Linked DNA regions of Homo sapiens: region 1 is linked to region 2. A link means that fine-mapping ties the variant in region 2 to the expression of a gene that starts in the linked region. Tissue or cell type: fibroblasts. Region 2 holds a variant in brackets; the other region holds the start of a gene. All regions are shown on one strand. Distances are between the middles of the regions.

What was found. PIP is the estimated chance that this variant, and not a neighbour inherited with it, causes the effect.
Region 1: it holds the start of GDF6, and the variant in region 2 is fine-mapped to the expression of GDF6 in fibroblasts (GTEx, PIP 0.98).

The regions. Positions count from the first base shown.
Region 1 is chr8:96,159,321-96,162,003 of GRCh38, reverse strand. GDF6 (growth differentiation factor 6) reads left to right here and starts at 1,198. Exons shown (of 2, transcript NM_001001557.4): 1 at 1,198-1,717. The coding sequence starts at 1,312.
Region 2 is chr8:95,800,781-95,803,463 of GRCh38, reverse strand. All of the region lies in intron 3 of CFAP418-AS1 (CFAP418 antisense RNA 1), which reads right to left. Among named protein-coding and RNA genes, the nearest start is that of GDF6, 360 kb to the left of the region's middle. The variant G/A (reference allele first, on the strand shown) is at 1,466.

The DNA of each region.
Region 1 (2,683 bases), 360 kb before region 2:
GCAGCGCTACGCCGCATCGCCTTTCAGCGTGCAGGCCCAGGAATGAGCGAGGCAGTGGGCGGGGAAGACAGGCACGGGGAATCTGGGGACAGATAAAGGAAACTCGTGATGGGGCGAGGCTGGGCTGAAGAGAAACAGATTGGGGTAGAGCTGCAAAGGGAGGGGTCCACTGGAAGGCGAGGGGGGAGGCCGGGAAGAGAGAGGGTGGGAAGGCAGTGTGAGATGGGAGGGCAGTGTGAGAAGAAAAGCAGGCTGGGGAAGAGGGATTGGAATGCAGAAGGAACTTGGGGAAGGAGGAAGTCCTGCAGGCGGGAGGGAAAGAAGAGAGGGAAAATGGGGATGCAGTGGAGGCGGGGGGCAGGCCGCGAGAGGGAGAGGATCCCGGGAGCAGACGAAGAAGTGGAGCAGCTAAAGTCTGCGTCAGAAGAGGTTGGGGACTGCGAGAGGAGAGGCTGGGGCCTGCAGGGGAGCGCAGCAGCTTTTAGCATCGATCCAAACTCTAAAGACTCGTGGCCTTTGCCTGACCTCGAGGGTCGGGAATAGACGCCTGTCTTTGTGGAGAGCGATACCCAACCGAGAAAATGGGGCTGTTCCGAGCTGGGCCCTGCGCCTGGCCCAGGGCGAGGCTTCTCTGGCTCCGGGCTGGCCCCTGAGGGGCGCAAACGGCAGGCCTGGCGGTTGGGGCCGAGGAGGGAGGGTACCACCGCCCCGAGGCAGCACGCAGCCTGCAGCAGAGGCGCCTGCTCCAAGCTGTCTCTTGGGGGCGCCGCCGCCGCTTCCCTCCTCCGGGGCCGCTCGCTCCCAGGAAAGTGGAGGCGGCTGGCGAGGACCGAGAGCCGGGGCCGCGCTGCGGAGGGACCACACCTCCGGGAGTTCGAGGGGGACCCTGGCGCGGCGGGCCAGCCTTTGCTCCCCGGCCACGGGCCGGCAGCGCCCGCCTTCCCCCGGTCAGCGCTTGCGGCCCGCGCCGCGCGCACCGCCCGGCAACCCCGCGCGCGTCCCGCGGGGGCGCTGCGTCTTCCTGCCACACCGGCGCACCGCGGCCCCTCTCCCCCACACCTCCGGCCCGCACCACCCGGCTCTCCTCCCACCCTCCCCACCCCTCCTCTGCCCTCCCTCCCCATTCCTCCCCTCCCGGCGAGGGGCGGGAGGGGGCGTGGCGGGGCCGGGGTTTGTGTGGCTGGGACCCGGCTCCTCGCACTCCGAGTCCGCCCGAGGAGCCGGGCCCCGGCCGCTGTCCAGCCGCTCCGTGCCCCGCGCGTCCTGCGCCGCCGCCACCGCCTCCTGGGGAGACGCAGCCACTTGCCCGCCATGGATACTCCCAGGGTCCTGCTCTCGGCCGTCTTCCTCATCAGTTTTCTGTGGGATTTGCCCGGTTTCCAGCAGGCTTCCATCTCATCCTCCTCGTCGTCCGCCGAGCTGGGTTCCACCAAGGGCATGCGAAGCCGCAAGGAAGGCAAGATGCAGCGGGCGCCGCGCGACAGTGACGCGGGCCGGGAGGGCCAGGAACCACAGCCGCGGCCTCAGGACGAACCCCGGGCTCAGCAGCCCCGGGCGCAGGAGCCGCCAGGCAGGGGTCCGCGCGTGGTGCCCCACGAGTACATGCTGTCAATCTACAGGACTTACTCCATCGCTGAGAAGCTGGGCATCAATGCCAGCTTTTTCCAGTCTTCCAAGTCGGCTAATACGATCACCAGCTTTGTAGACAGGGGACTAGGTAAGTGGCAAAGAAAACGCTCGACTCCCCTCCCGCTGGAGCTCGGCAGCCAGGGAGCTGTTCCCGCTGGAGGCTACATTTGTGAATTCCCTTCCTGCTCTGGACACTTCCTTTTTACTTTTCTTAAATTGTTTTTCTCAAGCTCGAGTAAGTTTCTGAATGTGGCTGCGGATTCTATTCCAGTCTCTAAACCTCCCTTCCTTTCCCCCCCTTTCTTTCTCTCTCCCTTCTTTCCTTCTTCCTCTTTTGCAGAAGGCAGCGTGGTTGCCGCTTGTTGGTGGCTGGTGGGGGAAACGTGGAGGACGGGAGGCAGCAGGCGGATGAACCCGGCTGGAGAGGGGTCGGGATGGGGACTGATGGAATCGGTGTCTCGGGATACTGGGTTCGCAGTCCAAGGCCTGAGCTGCTGGGGCAGATCTAGGGCATGAGACAGCCTTGGAAAGCCCTGGGCAAAGCCGGCACTAGGGAGTCCCACAGTCTGAGGAACTAGTCCGCGAGCGGCGTCGGGCAGCCCCCTGGTCCTGGCGCCGCGCGGGTTTTCCGTTGGTCCCTGCGCTGGGTGGGATGGTCAGCCGGGCTGGAGCCCTGCGCCCTCCGGCTTTTTTGCTCCAGCGTGGTGCTCCCGGCTGCTCCGAGGCCTCAACACGAGTGGTTTCTGCAGATGCGGCGGCAGCAGTTGGGCGGGCCGGGACAGGGACGGCTAAGTTCGGAGGTTGTGGGTACTTAATACACAAAGGTACATGGGTATGCCCATCCACCTTTCTCAGCCAGGCGACGTTCCTCTCTCTACGCTATTCCTGAGGGCTGGTGGGGGTCTGGGAAATCCCTGGTACCCTCTGTGGGAACGCCTGCATGTGTGGGTGTCTGCGGAAACCCTTGCGGCCCCTTCTTGCCACCGGCGTTGATCTGCAGCGTGGCCAGTGCCCTCAAGAAAACCTCGCACCACCTCTGGTCCCAGAAATCAGG
Region 2 (2,683 bases):
ACAAAACACAAGTTTCATGAAATTATTCAGAATTGCAAGATAGTGGTAGCAGTGCGTTAAACCAAATGTGGGACCATTTGACTGTGTAAGTCTCTGCCCATGAAACCAGCCCTGATCCATTTTCCATCACAATGTAGTTAATAAAGAGCACACTGAGCACAGAGGATGGGCACATGCATTCTTGCTGAATGATGAATGACTGAACAATTCAGAACTGTTGACCAGTGAACTGAGCTGCAGCCATAAGTGACCTCATGGCCCAGAAAGAGGAAGACAAAGACAAAGGTAGAGAGCTTCAGTTTCCAATACTGTTCCTGTTCCTCAGCCTACTTGTACCTCCTAGCCTTGAGTTCAGTGAAATATTATTATTCCCTATAACAAATCTCCCCTGATTTATCTGTGTAGGTTTTTATAGTGTCTTGACAAGAAATTCATTTTGTGCCGTGGCCCGCCCATGACCCTCTCCAGACATATCCAGCTATACGATCTTCTGAATGTGTCATGATTTTCACATTGGCATGCCTTTGACCACAGAGCCATTGTTCTCTCAATGACTATGTCCTCTTCTTTTCTTTTTCTTTTCTTTTCTTTTTTCTTTTCGTTTCTCTCTTTTTTTTTTTTTTTTGAGATGGAGTTTTGCTCTTGTCACCCAGGCTGGAGTGCAATGGTGTGATCTTGGCTAACTGCAACCTCAGCCTCATGAGTTCAATCACTTCTCCTGTCTCAGCCTCCCGAGTAGCTGGGATTACAGGCACCCGCGACCAGGCTCTCTTTTCTAATAAGCCAACTCCTCTTCTTTCTCCAAGATCAGCTCTCCTGTGATACGTTCTTCAGTTCTCACTTGAGATAGTCACTCAGCTGTCATTGTATTGAGGTAGATGCTGACATTTCTGTCCCTGAGATCTCCTTGGGGATGGGGTAAAGCAGTGTTCTCTTTTGTATTTCTCTTGCCCAGTACCTCATCTAGTGCTTGATACTTAGATTCTCACTGTTGCATAAGACTTCATTGTTGATTTACCAAATTACCATATATGGCTACACCTGGGGGACATTATGTTAGGACTATTTTCAGAATACCTCAGTTGCAAGTTGTTCACCACTTCTCAGTCCTTATTTCTTGTGTTCAAAGATGAGTTTTCATTGAAAACTCTTCTAGCTGATTATATGAATTATTTAAGTTAGTGGTAGTAGAAAGAAGTGTGGACAATAAAAAGAGGCATATTGAAATGGGCTTGGATTAAAGCCATCCAAAGACTATCTGTGCTCAGTTGTGCCTAAAGTACTTTTGGAACAATCTATTTATGAAATGATAGACCACAGATCACTGTTGATGACACCCACATTCATTCTTGACAACTATGACTCATTCGTACGTCGTGCACATACACAGGAGCAGGAATAGATCACAGATCACTGACTGTGACACCCACATTCATTCTTGAAAAGTATGACTCAGCTGTAAGTC[G/A]TGCACATACACAGGAGCAGGAATCTGAGGGGAAGAAATATCTATCCAGTGCAGATGCCATTCACAGAGATCCCCAGACAGTCTCCTAAGCAGCCTGAATTGTTCTTCTTGTCTGGTCTGCATCCCACTGGGAAACAGTCCAAGGTGTTAAATATTTTCACTGAATATGGTGGTCTCCCTCCTTTGGCATGATGTTTTGGAGGGGTCTCTTCCAGTGGGACATTGTTTATCATTTATTTCTCATCCAAACTGAGAATTATAGAACGAATCCTGCTTTCATTCAGATTACAGATTTGTTAAAACAATATCTGAAATATAGCAGATATTGTCATGATTTTGCAAAAACAAAACAAAAACGAAAAAGTCTTACAAGATAGAAATGCTTAATGAATACATAACACATTTATCAGGACTTGTTTTCTCATTGTTATCAAGAGTTGGCCATGAGGAATAGGATATTAGGTCATATGCAGACTAGGAAGTGGAAAAGGCCAAAAGATAAAAATTCTACAAGAGACAGAGAAAGCGCTTACATGTCTATCTTTTTTGCTTGCTTCACACATGAAGTGATTCCCTGCTGAATGGAAAGACAGACAGGTGAGACTGGCTTTCATTCAAATGATGGGTGGAAGTGCCCCTGCCATGTTTGAAGGTTTAAAAAGTTCTAATATTCAGATGAAGAGGGAAGAGAGAATAACGTTCTCCTCCCTTCATATGCAATGCAGTCGGAAAATCAGTCCCATTCTTTTATTTATGTGGTCAAAATGCAAGTATAAAAATTATTACCCAGATTGCAAGTCAATCTAATCACTGCATCATCTTTCATTAGCTCTGGACATTTAGCTCTCTGTGATACAACCGTTTCTCTGACCGAATAAGTCTGTGTCAAATAATTGTTAAAATTTCCACTGATCCCCAAAAGTCTGAGCACCAGCTGGATGTAGATGTTTGCCAACACCAGCAGTCATGTGGAACTCACTAATTGGGTATATGCATCCTGGGCATACAGACATGCCATGCCAAAGGGGTGGCCGTACCTCACGATGCCTTTGGAACATGCAATAACTTCATTGCTTTACAAAAAAAAAAAGGAAAAGACAAGACTTGGCTGAAAGCAAGATTGCTTTTCAGAAGGGAAACTCTTTTCCCAGGGTGCACTGTGCAGACAAAACTTACTGCATCCCTTCTGAAAATGTGTCTGGAGCAGTCTTCCAAGAT